Linked DNA regions of Homo sapiens: region 2 is linked to region 1. Evidence: fine-mapped expression QTL. Tissue or cell type: cerebellum. Region 1 holds a variant in brackets; the other region holds the start of a gene. All regions are shown on one strand. Distances are from middle to middle.

Region 1 (8,102 bases):
CCAGCTAAAGAGCTGAAGCTGGTTCACAGCGTGTGGTGGGGGGAGTCGTGGCAAAGGGCCTCTGCCCCAATATATGCAGCCGAGGAAGGAGAAAGGTGGTGTCCCTGGGGACTTACCCCGAGGGTAACACTCAAGTCAAGGCGCTCAGCCACTACAATGAAACAAAAGCCCCTGGGACTTGATTTCTAGATCCAGATCTATCACTTAGCAGCCCTGTGACTTAGGCAGGTTGCCTCCTTCTCTCAGTCTTAGTTTCTCCATCTTCAAAATGAGAGACTAGTCCCTCCCACCTCCAAGCATGGGCCAGAGACCAGCATCTTTGGCATCACCTGGGAGCTTGTTAGAAATGCAGAGTCTCAGGCCAGCTCCAGTGGCTCAAGCCTGCAATCCCAGAGCTTTGGGAGGCTGAGGGGAGGATCTCTTGAGGCAAGGAGTTTGAGAACACCTGAGCAACATAGCACGACCTTGTCTCTACTAAAAATAAAAAATGTTGATATGCAACAAGATATAAAAAAGGAAAAAAAAATTAAAAAGGAAAACTAGCTGGGTATGGTGGTACATACCTGTAGTCCCAGCTACTCAGGAGGCTGAGGCAGGAGGTTCACTTGAGCCCAGGAGTTGGAGGCTGCAGTGAGCTATGATGGTGCCACTGCATTCCAGCCTGGGCCAGAGAGCAAGACCCTGTCTCTTAAAAAAAAAAATGCAGGCCAGGCATGGTGACTCACGCCTGTAATCCCAGCACTTTGGCAGGCCGAGGCGGGCAGGATCACGAGGTCAAGAGATCAAGACCATCCTGGCCAACATGGAGAAACTCCATCTCTACTAAAAATATAAAAATTAGCTGGGCATGGTGACACAGACCTGTAGTCTCAGCTACTTAGGAGGCTGAGGCAGGAGAATCGCTTGAACCTGGGAGGCAGAGGTTGCAGTGAGACGAGATTGCGCCACTGCACTCCAGCCTGGCGACAGAGCAAGAGGGAGACTCCATCTCAAAAAAAAAATTAAAAATAAAAATAAATAAATAAATAAATAAATAAATGCAGAATTTAAGCCCCACCGTACACGGGCTGAGTCAGTCTGCAGCTTAACAAGATCCCTAGGCGCTCATGTCCTCTGTCAAGTTTGAAAAGTACTGGACCAGTTACCTAGGAATCTTTCGGGCATTCCCGGCTAATTTTTGTATTTTTAGTAGAGACAGGGTTTCGCCACGTTGGCCAGGCTGGTCTTAAACTCCTGACCTCAGGTGATCTGCCTGCCTTGGCCTCCCAATGTGCTGGGATTACAGGCATGAGCCACCATGCCCGGCAGGTACCTAGGAATCTTTAGTGGCCCCCTTCTAAAATCCTATCTCACCAACCTATGCAGAGCCCAGTGGGGAGGACTAGATGCCTTTCTCTGTTCCCATAAGCCCCATTACTCCCTGTTGTCAGGCCTCTGAGCCCAAGCTAAGCCATCATTTTCCCTGTGACCTGCATGTATACATCCAGATGGCCTGAAGCAACTGAAGATCCACAAAAGAAGTGAAAATAGTCTTAACTGATGACATTCCACCATTGTGATTTGTTCCTGCCCCACCCTAACTGACACAATATATTCTCCCCTGCCCTTAAGAAGGTACTTTGTAATATTCAAAGTACCACTTTGTAATATTCAAAGTACCCTTAAGAAGGTACTTTGTAATATTCAAAGTACCCTTAAGAAGGTACTTTGTAATATTCAAAGTACCCTTAAGAAGGTACTTTGTAATATTCAAAGTACCCTTAAGAAGGTACTTTGTAATATTCAAAGTACCCTTAAGAAGGTACTTTGTTCGCCTATCCCAAACCTGTAAGAACTAATGATAATCCCACCACCCTTTACTGACTCCTTTTTCGGACTCAGCCCACCTGCACCTGGGTGAAATAAACAGCCTTGTTGCTCACACAAAGCCTGTTTGATGGACTCTCTTCACACGGACGCGCATGACACTTGGTACATGGCCCACTGTGCCAAGCCATAAATGCTCATGGCAAACCTTCCCTGCATTAGGGTTTCCAGGAGGCAGGTGCCTCTGGGCTCCCTGAGACCATCAATCTCCCTGCCTCTCTGTGCAGTTCTTAGTTTCAGGAGCAACCACCCTGGTCATCTCAGCAAACTGCACAGTTCCCCGGGTGAGTTTCATAGACATTTCTTCTGCCTCTGGGCACAGCTTATCCTGGAAGACCTTATATGAAAGTGGATGCTTGTGGGGCCTTTCCACAGGATGGTGGGCGAGTAGGGAGTGGGCCTTTGTCCGCAATCCTACTCACTGGCAGGTCTGAGCTCCTGACCATCCTCCTGTCCTATAGAAGCTTCCTGTATCTAATTTGAGTCTGTTTCTAGTCTCCTCTCCTTTACCACAGCTCCTCCATGCCTTTAATACAGCCTGGACCTCAGCAAGTCACCCCTAATCGGATAGGTTGCATGCAGACCCAAATGGCATTAAACTTGCTGGACCTCCTGGTTCGACCTCCAGAAAGGGGACTCCATCCCCACCAGAGCCGTCTGTTTTGAACCTAGGAAACTAGAATCCTAGGGCTGCTGTAACCAATTACCACACACCAGGTAGCTTAAAACAACAGAAACATGGCCGGGCCTGGTAGCTCATGCCTGTAATCCCAGCACTTTGGGAGGCCGAGGCAGGCGGATCACTTGAGGTCAGGAGTTCGAGACCAGCCTGGCCAACATGATGAAACCCCGCCTCTACTAAAAATACAAAAATTAGCCAGGCGTGGTGGCAGTTGCCTGTAATCCCAGCTACTCGGGAGACTGAGGCAGGAGAATTGCTTAAGCCCAGGAGGCAGAGGTTGCAGTAAGCTTAGATCGTGCCTGGGCAAGAGTGAGACTCCATCTCAAGAAAAAAAAAAAAAAGAAAGAAAACAGAAACCTGTAGTCTATGATTCTGGAGGCTGGAAGCCCAAAGTCAAGGTGCTGGCAGGATCGAGTTCTCTCTGAAGGCTCTTGGGGATAATGCTTTCTGGCCTCGTCCCAGCTTCCAGTGGTTGCTGGCAACTCTTGGTGTTCCTTGGCTCGTAGACACATCCTGCCAGTCTCTGCCTCTGTCATCAGGGGCTGTTCTCCCTGTGTCCCTTCCCTTCTTCTAAGGACACCAGTCATAATCCATTATGACCTCATCTTAACTCGATTACATCTGCAAAGACCCTATTTCCAAATAGATCCCATTCACAGGTACCAGGGTTAAGACTTCAACATATCTTTTGGGGGGATACAATTCAACCCACAAAAGATGGCAAATAGCTTTTCTATCGATGCGGCCCTGGTGGGTTCTGAGGATTGATGGATGTTGTCTGCCATGGACTTTGCAGGAAGAAGTGGCCACACATGTTGCTGTCTGTGCTCCTGCAACAAATCCATCTCCTGGCTATTAAGGCTGACATAGCCTCTGTGGCCCATGGGCTCCAGCAGGTGGAGCAGAGATGCTGTCACCTTGGTCACTGGTTCCTGGCTCCTAGGGCAAGTCAGTGGTTCCTCCAGGATCAAAAGCGTGCAAAGGAAGCCCGCAACACAGAGGGCATGTGAGCCAGCACTCTCCCCTTCCCGCTGGGTAGTAACTCGGGCTCCGGTCTCCTTAGCAGGTGAAGGTCAGCACAGGGCCAAACCTGGTCAGCTCACTGTGTGCCAGCCTCGGGGTGTGTGCCTTCATGGTTGAGCTGGCTGCCAGCAACAACTATACCCAGATCAGTGTCTCAGGCCCAGAGAATAAGCATCCACTCTTTGGGCACCATTTAATCCTAGAAACCACCACCAAGAGATATTTTCTTATCCTCTATTGTCAAAGTTAAAATGGGGAGTGGGATTTTTTTTTTCTTTAAATACAGACAGAGCCTCGCTAACTTGCTCATGCTGTCCTCAAACTCCTGGGCTCCAGCGATTCTCCTGCCTAAGCCTCCTGAGTGGCTGGGACTCCAGGCAGGTACCATGACACCCAGCTTTTGGGAGTAGGGTTTAAGTGTTTAGCAATTACCTCCAGATTCCCTGAGGCAGAACTCCACCAGGATTTGACAGCCCCAGGTACTTCCCTCTGGACTAGTTTTTCCTGTGTTAATGCTGATGTGGTGGCTCTTTAGGAGGCCAAGGCGGGAGGATCGCTTGAACCCAGGAGTTTGAGACTAGCCTGAGAAACATGGTGAGGCCCACTCTCAACCAAAAATATTTTTTTGAAAAAAATTAGCCAGGTATGTTGGTGCAGGCCTGTAGTCCCAGCTACTTGGAAGGCTGAAGTGGGAGGATTGCTTGAGCCCATGAGTTCAAGGCTGCGGTGAGTTATAATCATGCCACTGCACTCCAGCCTGGGTAACAGAGTGAGCCCCTGTTTCTTAAAAAAAATAATAATCATTTGCTTGGAGGAAGATATTCCAGCTGCTTGCCTCCTACCAAGGACGTTCCCCTGTAAGAGCATAGAGGTCAAGGGTGCATTAGGAGGACTGCCAGCATAATAATACCTAAGATTTATCAGTGAGTCCTGCCTTCTGGCTGTGGCCATTGAGGTCACATCTTTTCAAAGACATGTGATTATGTCATGAGATTGCTACCAGGGACCTGGACGTGGCAAAAATGGGGCTGGGAATACTGGGGGAGGAGTTTCCTCTGCTCTCATCCTAGGGAAAGAGAGGAAAGGAGAAACACTCTCTTCAGGTGGGTCTGACACACCATGCAGGGGCGAGGGACACACTGCCCACTGCTGCCCACACTTTGACCACTTCAGTGACCCAGCTGCCCCAGAATCCCCGACCTTCCCCTGTAGCCTGGGGTCCCTGAACGGCCCCAAGACTCAACTTCCTGCCCGTGACCTCACGTGAAACTGATCTTCACCCAG[C/G]CCCTCTCTGTGCTTTCCTTATCAGTAGAGGACAAATCATTCCTCCTAGGCCCCCACGACCCTAGTCCACTGTGTTCACCTTCCCTAGCTGCTCTCTCCTCCATCCATGCCTCTCCCTCTCCTCTGGTCCAGAAACTCAAGTCCCGGAGACCCCGTGTCCCTCTCTGACTGTGGTCTCCCCTCTCTTCCCTTTCACAGCAACAATCTCCTACGGACTCCATCTCCTCCTCTCCCGTCTCTACAGACCTCAAGCCCTCTCAGGGCAGCCGCCAGTAGCTTACTGCCAAATACATGCTTTTCCATGTATTTTCTTACTTGACCTTTCTGTACTTTTTTGCTGATGGGTGTCAGTCTGAATGGTTGACCACATGGGTCTTGGAATTGGATGGGTCTGAATCCCAGCTTTCACATACCAGCTGTGTGGCTTTGGACAAGTACCTCAATTTTTCTGAACCTCTGTTTCATCCTCTGTGAAATGGGGCTAATCAGAGTAGCTATCTAATAAGGCAACTAAGATTAAAATAAGCACGTAACAGGTGCTCACTAGATGACAGGTCACTCCCCTTCTAGAAAGCTTCCCTTCTTTTATCCATCTCCTTGGTCAGAATCTGCAGACTGATTCCGGGACTGGCTGGCCTGTAAAACTGCCCAGTTTTTGCAGGCTTTGCACCCTGGTTTTGCAGGTGCCCTGGAAGAGTCTCTCGGTGCTGCTGCTGTTCTTCACCATCCTGGCACTAGGCATCGCCTTCTTGTCTACCTTCCTGGGCTTCCATGCCACCTTCTGCTACACCCAGCTGGTGAGTGGGTTGGCAAGGTCTCTGCAGGACAGGCAGGCCCTCACTCGATCCCCAGAGCCTGGACAGGGGAGCCGAGGGAGGAGGGACAACAAGAGGGCTGTGTGGGGAGTGGCAGGCAGAACCCCTCCTGCCATCCTAAACCATCTGTACCATGGCCGTGCTGAGCCCCACTTGGTCTACACTGGGGAGATGCTGTCTTGAAGGACATGTGAGAACAGGGAGGTGGCTAGGGAAGAAGATGTTTACAAAAGCTTATAGCTCAGCACCAAGGTAGAACTGACTAGGACAAGTGCCGCATGGTGCCGCCAGATTCTGGTGGTGGCAGCCGATGCTGCAGGAAGGAAGGGCAGCGGTGAGGCTTCTGGATCCTGGCTGACAACTATAGCCTTACATGCGCTGGGAGACGGTGGTTACAGCAGCTCCCTCCATCAAGGGGCTTCCACAAGCTCCTTCCCCCGACCCTCATGACAGGCCTGAAGGGGCAGGGAAGAGACTGACCACGTGTCACAGATGAGGAAACTGAGGCCCAGAGAACTAAGGTGACCTGGCTGAGATCACATCCATCCCCAGAATCCAGGTACGACTCCCGGGCAACCTTCTCCTCAGGGAAGACCAGAGCTACAAGAAGGACTCAGCCCAAAGCACAAGGTCTGGGGGCTCAGGCTACCACCACGTGGTCTGTGGAGGGCTGTGGGCAGAGAGGAAAGCCTGGATCGCCAGAGAAAGCACAGAAGGAAAACCTAAAAGGATCACAGGGTCACATGGGCTGCTTCTGGGCTGACTAAAGGCGAGTGGCCTTGGCCCTTCCTTCTTCTCCCGACTCCAGTACCTGAACCCAGCTCAGGAACTTCCCACGGCCACAGCAGCCACTCCCAGGATCCACCCACCAGGCCCCACAGCCCCCAGCCACAGCCTGCACTCAAGGCATCTGCTGATCCTGGGAGCTGAGCTCCTCCCAGCATCTGACCTCTGGGGCTCTGCGATCTTCCCCTTCTCCTGGCTGCAGGGTTGGCCTTCCCTTTGTAACACCCAGCCCCAGAGGTCACTACCCCCATCCTCATACACACCCCAGCATGGAGATGGGTCTGCTCTTTCTGTCTAAGAAACATCCCTCAATGTCGCTGTTTTGCTGTCAACAAAAAGTTGACATGTGGCTTGGGTCACATCCACCAGGATTTAGTGACTAAAGTTGCATATCTTGTCCGTGTGTGTGCACAGCAGGGACCCTAGGTGTCTCACGTCTGTATGTGTGGATGGACAAGTATCCACCTGTTCCCCCACTTAATGGATTTGTTACTGGAAACCCTGCTGCTAAGTGAGAAGCTGTTAAATAAAAATATTTTCATGAATGCGGCCAGGCACAGTGGCTCACGCTTGTAATCCCAGCACTTTGGGAGACCGAGGCAGGCAGATCACTTAAAGTCAGGAATTCGAGACCAGCCTGGCCTACATGGCAAAACCTCGTCTCTACAAAAAATACACAAGTTAGCCAGGCATGGTGGCGCACGCCTGTAATTCCAGCTACTCAGAAGGCTGAGGCACGTGAATTGCTTGAACCTGGGAGGCAGAGGTTGCAGTGAGCCAAGATCGCGCCACTGCATTCCAGCCTAGGTGATAAAGTGAGACTTTGTCTAAAAAAGAAATATACTTTCATGAATGCAAATGGGAAAAATGTATTCCATCCCAACCCAAGGTACCCAAGCAATTCTCGGAAAAATTTTCAGTGCAGACAAGTATACAGGTAGTAAGCAATCTGAATGTATTCAGGAGTCCCCCCTGACGTGAGGTTCCACTTTCTGTGATTTCAGTTATCCGTGGTCCACCACAATCCAGAAATAGCTGGCCGGACGCAGTGGCTCATGCCTGTAATCCCAGCACTTTGGGAGGCCAAGGCAGGTGGATCACCTGAGGTCAGGAATTCAAGACCAGCCTGGCTAATACGGCGAAACACCATCTTTACTAAAAACACAAAAATTAGCCGGGTGTGGTGGCATATGCCTGTAATCCCAGTTACTTGGGAGGTTGAGGCATGAGAATCGCTTGAACCTGGGAGGCAGAGGCTCCCAGTGAGCCGAGATCACGCCACTGCACTCCAGCCTGGGCAACAGAGCGAGATTCTGTCTCAAAAAAAAAAAAAAAAAAAAAAGTTGAGTACACTGTATTTGGAGCGACCACATTTACATAACTTTTTTTTTTTTTTTTGAGATGGAGACTCCCTCTGTCGCCCAGGCTAGAGTGCCGTGGTGTGATCTCGGCTCACTGCAACCTCCACTTCCCGGGTTCAGGTGATTCTCCTAACTCAGACTCCCAAGGAGCTGGAATTACAGGCTCGTGCCACCACGCCTGGCTTTTTAAATTATTTTTAGTAGAGACGGGGTTTTGCTATGTTGGCCAGGTTGGTCTCAAACTCCTGAACTCAAGTGATCCGCCCACCTCGGCCTCCCAAAGTG
Region 2 (8,102 bases), 41 kb after region 1:
CCATTCTGCAAAATCATCCGGCTGTACTAAAAAATGTCAAGGGTATGAAAGACAAAAGAAGATAGAAGGGCGGTCCCAGATCAGAGGAGGCCAAGAGGCACGCCAGCGAGACTCTGAGCCTGGATTGGATCCTGCAGACTCCCAAAACCACTGTACTCCTTTGCCATGAAAGTCACAGTTAGGACAGTCGGCAGATGTTGAGTAATTGTCAGAGCAGGAGCACCGTCATCTCGGACAAATACTGCCACTTTAAGCTCCAGCTCCCTTTCTAGCCTCATGCATTTCAAGGAAATCACTTCTCTTCTAACTACAACAGCCAGAAAGAGCAGACAGTAAAATACAGATAAGACAGCTCCGGCACAGAGCGGGGTGGAGGGAAGGTCTCTTTGGTAACTGCCAAACTTCACCCTCACACAATGAGCCCCAGTAAAACAGTGGGCCTTAATAAGCACATTCCTTTTCCTTCAGGGGCACTAAGATAGGGAAGCTAAAAGCAGACTCTGGGGATATGCCTGTAGCTGCAGAAAGATATATGGGAACAGACACACAACTCTCCCTCCCAGATACGCACAGCAAAGAGACACAGGAGCAGTCCAAGCCTCTGATAAACTCCCCCGCCCTGAATCCTTAACTCTTAATCTGTAAGAGAGTGGGGCTCTGACCTAACTCGGCCAGCCGCCCCTCTCAGGTTTACTCAACATAAACCTGTCCCTGTTGCCTGTTGAACCGCCCTTTCATGTTGCTTTCCTCTTTATTTCTTACAATAATGTCTGCAGATTAGATCGTTGTGTTTATACCATTGTTGGTTTCCTGATTTTGATCATTTGACTGTAGGGGTGATTTGTTTTTTTAGGAAATGTATACTGAAGCAATTAGAGGTAAAGGGGAATCTGTCATTTCTGCAACTGACTCTTGAATGATATGGAAGAATGTGTGCGTGTGTGCGTGTGCGTGCGTGTATGTCTGCACACATGCAGAGAGAGAAAGCGGGAGCTACAGCAAATGTAAAAAGTGAACAGTGAACATCTGAGGAATCTGGAGGAGGCTATATGGAAATTCTGCAAATCTGAAATAATTTCAAAATTAAAAGTTTAAAACTTCCACATCGTCCCTCAGGGAAAATCCACCCCACTCCCCGCTCCTGCCTGGCTCCTCTCCTTCCCCTCCTAGTCCTTCCCTCGCCAGCACCCTCAGCCTGCCTGGAGTCCTTGTCCTGGACCTTTGTGTGACCTGCTTCCTCCCTCCTCCTCCAGCTCTGCTCTCCCCAGATCCCCATTGCACCATCCCTGTCCTCCCCGCCTCCTCCCACCTCTGCTCAGGACCCCTTTCCTCCAAAAACACTTCCATGTCGCCCATCCTCGATGCTGTGTTGGGTGCCTCTTCCCACTGTGCCCCCAGAGGGACTCCCACCCCGCCCCACCAAGCTTTCCCAGCTGAGCTTTAATCACAGTAGAAGTGAATTATTGCCAAGCATTAAATCATTACTGCACCTGGTACCCATGACTTGTCTCTTTGTGTCTTCCTATCCACCATGTGGGCAAGGAAAGCATTATCACCCCCAGTTTACAAACAGGAAACCTGAGGCTCAGAATAGATAATGCATCTGAGTCACAGCTAAGAAAGTGGTTGGGGCACCATTAGAACCAACTTTTTTTGTTTAAACTTTTATTTTAGGTTCAGGGTTACTTATGCAGGTTTGTTATATAGGTAAATGCATGTCCAGAGGGATTGTTGTACAGATTATTTCATCACCCAGATACTAAGCCTAGCACCCAATAGTTATTATTTCCACCCTTCTCCTTCCTCTTACCCTCTACCCTTCAATAGGCCCCAGTGTGTGCCATTCCCCTCTATGTGTCCATATGTTGTCATCATTTAGCCTTCAGTTATAAGTGAGAACATGTGGTATTGGTTTCTGTTCCTGCATTTGTTTGCTAAGGATAATATCCTCCAGCTCCATCCATGTTCTTGCAAGAGATGTGATCTCATTCTTTTTTATGGCTGCATAGTATTCCATGGTGTATGTGTACCACATTTTCCTTTTTTTTTTTTCTTTTTCTTTTTTTTTTTTTTTTTTTGAGACAGAGTCTCACTCTGTCGGCCAGGCTGGAGTGCAACAGCACAATCTCGGCTCACTGCAACCTCCGTCTCCTGGGTTCAAGCGATTCTCCTGCCTCAGCCTCCTGAGTAGCTGGGACTACAGGTGCGTGCCACCACACCCAGCTAATTTTTGTATTTTTAGTAGAGACAGGGTTTCACCATGTTAGCCAGGATGGTCTCGATCTCCTGACCTCGTGATCCGCCCGCCTCGGCCTCCCAAAGTGCTGGGATTACAGGCGTGAGCCACCGTGCTCAGCATGTACCAGATTTTCTTTATTGAGTCTACCATTGATGGGCATTTGATTCCATGTCTTGGCTATTGTGAATCATGCTGCACTGAACATATGCACGCAGGTTCAGTGTCTTTATGATAGAACAATTTATATTCCTTTGGATATATACCCAGTAATGCGATTTCTGCATCAAATGATAGTTCTGTTTTCAGCTCTTTGAGGAATCACCACACTCCCACAGTGGTCAAACCAATTTACACCCCCACCAAGAGCGTATAAGCATTCCTTTTTCTCTGCAACCTCACCAGAACCGGGCTCTTAGCTATCAAGCCTCTTGCTCTCCCCTTCCAGCAGCTGCTAATTATAATAGCTGCATTTTCTAATGTTTGCTGAGCTCAAACGCTGCTGGGCCCTAGGCTAATCACTTGCAGGAATTAGTGCCAGGACGTGGGGCTGGTGACAGTCCCTTCCTCAGAGGATGGTCAGGCGGTATAAGGATCTAACACAAGCAAGACCTGGCACTGTAATCATGGCAGACCACAGGCCATTCTTGTTGTTTCCAGCCACTTTTATGTCTTAGAACTGTTCTAGATTTACAGAACTGAGAAGATAGTACAGACAGTTCCCATACACCGCAGGCCCAGTTTACCCCATAACTGATCTTACTTGAGTATGATACATTTATTACAATTAATGAACAAACAAATGTGGACACATTATTATTAACTAAAATCCACTTTCTTCACTTTTACTGCCTTTTTCTGTTCCACGATCCCATCCAGATGCCACATTACATTTAGTTGTCCTTGTTATTTTTTATTAGTCATAGTCATCATCATACTGACCGGCTGAATCCTCAGGAGAGCCCTTGGAGGTGCTACTGGTCTGTTTACTCACCTGCAGTCCCCATTCCGCTGCCAGCTCTGAGGGCTGTGTCTTCCTGGTCTTGCTCTAATGCCCCTAAAGCCCTGCCTGAGGAGCTGTGACTGTACTAACCAGGCCGGCAGCTCCCAGTGGTCCTGAGGCCTCAAGGCAGGAAGGAGGACCTGGAGAGCCTGTTGGGGCAGGAAGGGAATGCAGAAAGGCTGGGGTGAGAGGGAGACAGTGGAGGGCCTGAGGTCTGCAGTGCCACCTCCTAGCCCTGGATCCCTTCCCACAGCCCATCTGCAACCTCAGTTTTCTGGAAAGCTCCCTCCTCCCTTCCAAAGCCACAGCTGTGAGACAGAAAGCCAGGGTGAGGGGCCACGTGCAGCTTTCTGCCTCCCGCTGCCTTTGGAACAGGAGTTTCACCACAGCCCCTGGTGGCCAGGTGGGTGCTCCTCCAGGTGGGCCCCCTTTGCCCTTACAGGCACCCACTTGCCACCTCCTCCATAAAAGGCCTGGGCCCAGCTCTGGTGGCGAGGGAGTAGGGGGTGTGTCTGTGGCGTCTCATGGCAGGAGGCTCAGCCACGACCTGGGGTTACCCTGTGGCCCTGCTACTGCTGGTTGCCACCCTGGGGCTGGGTAGGTGGCTCCAGCCCGACCCTGGCCTCCCAGGCCTCCGGCACAGCTACGACTGTGGGATCAAGGGAATGCAGCTGCTGGTGTTCCCCAGGCCAGGCCAGACTCTCCGCTTCAAGGTGGTGGGTGAGTGCTGGCAGAGTCCTGGCCCCTGCCTCCCTGGCCACGGGCTGCTGCCAGAAGGGAGCTGGGACCCTTCCCCTGAAGGAGCAAGAACAGAGGCCTCCCTCCAGCCTGGGGGTGTCCAGCCCCCCACCCCCTCACCACAGAAAAGGGCAAGGAGGAGAATCATCACCCAGGGCAGCTTCTCCCACGTTAGTGTGCATGGGAAACACCTGGCCACCTTGTTGAGGTGCAGGTTCTGATTCAGTGGACCTGGGGCAGGGCCAAGCCTCTGCATTTCTTTTCTTTTTTTTTTTTTTTTCTGAGACAGTCTCACTTCTTTCAATCTGTTCTCCAGGCTTGAGTGCAGTTGGCACGATCTCAGCTCACTGCAACCTCCACCACCCAGGTTCAAGCAATTCTCCTGCCTCAGCCTCTTAGTAGCTGGGACTACAGGTGTGTGCCACCACGCCCAGCTACTTTTTGTATTTTTAGTAGAGATGGAGTTTCACGATATTGGTCAGGCTGGTCTCGAACTCCTGACCTCAGGTGATCCACCTGCCTCAGCCTCCCAAAGTGCTGGGGTTATAGGCGTGAGCCACTGCACCCAGCCTAGGCTCTGCATCTCTAACCACGCTCAGTCAAAACTGAGGCTGAGGGTCCATAAACCACTTCCAGCAGCAGGACCTAGTAGGCGTGGCCTGGTGTGGGTTTAGAACTGGGGTTTGGATCTGCAGCTTCTAAACGGGATGATTTTGGACAACTGACCTGACTCATAAGCCTCTGTTTCCTCATCTGCAAGGTGGGGAAGATGAACCTGGCCGTGCTCATGGAACAAGGGCATGGGGACATGCCCACACCCAGGGAATGCCCAGGCTGTTCTGGGGCAACAAGCAGGGTGGACACCTAGGGGGTGTCTCCAAGCAACTGCAGCAGCCACAGTTAACCTGGGAAATGGGTTCAGATCTTTCTACAAAGCCCAGGATTCAAATCCTCATTCTGCCCCTCATTGTGTGCACCTAAGAAAGCTCACGCACCCTCCCTTCCTCAGCTGCCTCAGCCACAGGATGTGGATAACTAAGCTTAAAAGAAGTGATGTGAAATACTCAGGCCAGTGCCTGAGACCCTGTGTATCCCTTCTCCACCTCATCTTCGTGCCTGCCTGCTGCCGTGTGCTGTGAGCAGGGAACCCTAGCTAGAAAGATCCTAAGACCCTCCCATCCCCTTACAGCTGTGGAAACTGAGAGCAGAGAGGGGAGGGGGCTTGCCCAAGACCACACAACAAACTAATAGCAAAGCTAAGGCAAGAACCCAGGTCTCCTGGCTGCTGAGTGGGAACTCCTTCCGAGACCCCAGCAACCTCTCCCTGCACCCTTCAACATCCCTGGCCCCTCCCCTTCCCCCACTGCAGATGAATTTGGGAACCGATTTGATGTCAACAACTGCTCCATCTGCTACCACTGGGTCACCTCCAGGCCGCAGGAGCCTGCAGTCTTCTCGGCCGATTACAGAGGCTGCCACGTGCTGGAGAAGGTAGGGGTTGTTCATGCTCTGGCACAGGGGCAAGCTTGTCCTAGTGTCATGTCAGGCTGAAGAGGCCCCTCATGAACCAGAAAGGAGCCAAAGCCGAAGATCTGTTGAGCTGGTGGGTGAGGGAAACTAAGCTCTGGAAGGTACTTTCTGGAATCCACCATGAATCCAGCTCCCTGCCTAATGGCCAGCTCAGCTCTCGTGGGCCCGTCCCCTGCCTGGGTATGCTAGGTGGCCTCACCTTGCTGCTCTATGATGGCCTCTCACCTGCAGGATGGGCGTTTCCACCTGAGGGTGTTCATGGAGGCTGTGCTGCCCAATGGTCGTGTGGATGTGGCACAAGACGCTACTCTGATCTGTCCCAAACCTGACCCCTCCCGGACTCTGGACTCCCAGCTGGCACCACCCGCCATGTTCTCTGTCTCAACCCCACAAACCCTTTCCTTCCTCCCCACCTCTGGCCATACCTCCCAAGGCTCTGGCCATGCCTTTCCCAGCCCACTGGACCCAGGGCACAGCTCTGTCCACCCAACCCCTGCTTTACCATCCCCTGGACCTGGACCTACCCTCGCCACCCTGGCTCAACCCCACTGGGGCACCTTGGAACACTGGGATGTGAACAAACGAGATTACATAGGTACGCAGGACATCTGAGTGTACTTACCCTCTGTCTGGGGACTTCTGGAGTACAGGGTGGCCTAACAGCCTTTTACTGGGCTCTAAGCCATTTCTTTTTTTGTTTTTTTCTTTTTTTAGAAAAAGATGATTCTTTTATTCCTTTGTAGTATTTGGAAAACAGCTTTAAACATGTATAGGTGTACTAAAGCTAGAAGAGGTCTTGTAAATTTGTTTCCTAACTTTAGGCAGAAACTCATTGAAACCATTGCCAGCAACACCTGATTCTCAGAAAATATTCTCTAGAAATTTCAGTAATATTCAGTTTTGAGGGAGGACATTTACTGTGCTGGCTAAGAGCACAAGCTCTGGAGCAGGTTCCCAAGATTCAATTCCAGGGCCATGATTTGCAAACTGTGTGCCTTCAGCCTCATCACTCTGTCCCAACCCTAGGTACCCACCTGAGCCAGGAGCAGTGCCAGGTGGCCTCAGGGCACCTCCCCTGCATCGTGAGAAGAACTTCAAAAGAAGCCTGTCAGCAGGCTGGCTGCTGCTATGACAACACCAGAGAGGTTCCCTGTTACTATGGCAACACAGGTACAACCTCCCACCCCAGCAAGATCCTGGTCCCTTGGATTCTGAAGCGGAAGGAGAGCTGTCTCCTCCAGCTGGTGGAAACTGCTTCCTATCCTCCTCCTGGAGAGCCCAACTCCCAGAGCAGATGGCAGAGGAGACCTTTAGATGGGGCGGTCACATGTCCCAGCTGGCCTTATAACAACTGTCCCAGGGAACTATTAATAGATCTACCTTACACACATCTGGACTTTCAGATCTGAAACGCCCTGGTTTGGATGACAGATTATATGGTGAACCTACTTTTAGAGTGTAGTTCAACTCATTTGTCACATGGATGAGAAAATCAGTCCATAAAGGGTTTGCTGGGGCCAACACCAGCCTAAGTGGAGAGTAAGCGTCCATTCTCCTAGACCGGCACTTAAAGCCTGGCTGTCACCCAGCCATCCCGTCTCTGTGCTGGATGGACACCAAACCCCAAGGCCCTCATCTGCCTTTGTCCCAGCTACTGTCCAGTGCTTCAGAGATGGCTACTTCGTCCTCGTGGTGTCCCAAGAAATGGCCTTGACACACAGGATCACACTGGCCAACATCCACCTGGCCTATGCCCCCACCAGCTGCTCCCCAACACAGCACACGGAAGCTTTCGTGGTCTTCTACTTCCCTCTCACCCACTGTGGAACCACAATGCAGGTAGGAGCCGGGACCACAGGCTGGGGCCTGGTCCCCCACCAGAAAGCCTCACCCAGCTGTCTCTTCCTACAGGTGGCTGGCGACCAGCTCATCTATGAGAACTGGCTGGTGTCTGGCATCCACATCCAAAAGGGGCCACAGGGTTCCATCACGCGGGACAGCACCTTCCAGTAAGGGCAGCCCTCCTCCTACAGGCGTGGCTGTGTGCTAGGGTGTCAGGGGCACAGGCGAGCTCAGTACAGGCTTCGGAGCCATCTCAGCTCAAACCCAGGCTCTGCTGTTACCCGGCTATGTGATCTTAGGCAAGGGGCCCACCTCTTCCCAGCCTCCCCTGCTGGGCAGGGGAAATGTCCCTCTCTCAGGGCAGACATGAGTGTTAAGTGGAGCCCTTCCATGCCTGGCCTGCAGGGCTTGGCTAGAAGCCCAGGGCCAGTCCTGAGAGAGCTGGAGTCCTGAGAGAGCCCTGTCTTGGTCTCTCCAAGAACCAAGCTCAAAGCAACTGAAAGTGTCCCCTTCCAGGTCCCAGGAGGAGGCTGAGGCTACGGCTGTTGCCCCTCCTAATGTCAGGTTAAGAAGCCACAGATGAAGCTGAAGATACCTCTCTGAGGATGTGGTGGGAGAGGAACTGGGTGGGGGAGGAACCCCTCATTGTTAGGGGCCTCCTGGACCTGCTGACTCAAGAGGCAAAACCAACCCAGGTGCCCAGGATGCCAGTGGGGGTGACCCGAGGGAATCTGTCTGTCATGCCTGGCTCTG

The links. PIP is the estimated chance that this variant, and not a neighbour inherited with it, causes the effect.
Region 2: ZP1 starts here. The variant in region 1 is fine-mapped to the expression of ZP1 in cerebellum (GTEx, PIP above 0.99).

Annotation. Positions count from the first base shown.
Region 1 is chr11:60,822,333-60,830,434 of GRCh38, forward strand. The region is part of intron 2 of LOC105369322 (a long non-coding RNA gene); the gene reads right to left. Among named protein-coding and RNA genes, the nearest start is that of CCDC86, 16 kb to the right of the region's middle. The variant C/G (reference allele first, on the strand shown) is at 4,856.
Region 2 is chr11:60,863,799-60,871,900 of GRCh38, forward strand. It overlaps ZP1 (zona pellucida glycoprotein 1), which reads left to right and starts at 3,744. Exons shown (of 12, transcript NM_207341.4): 1 at 3,744-3,959; 2 at 5,347-5,468; 3 at 5,739-6,102; 4 at 6,534-6,677; 5 at 7,159-7,346; 6 at 7,419-7,516. The coding sequence starts at 3,764. RefSeq lists silencers at 338-632, 479-696.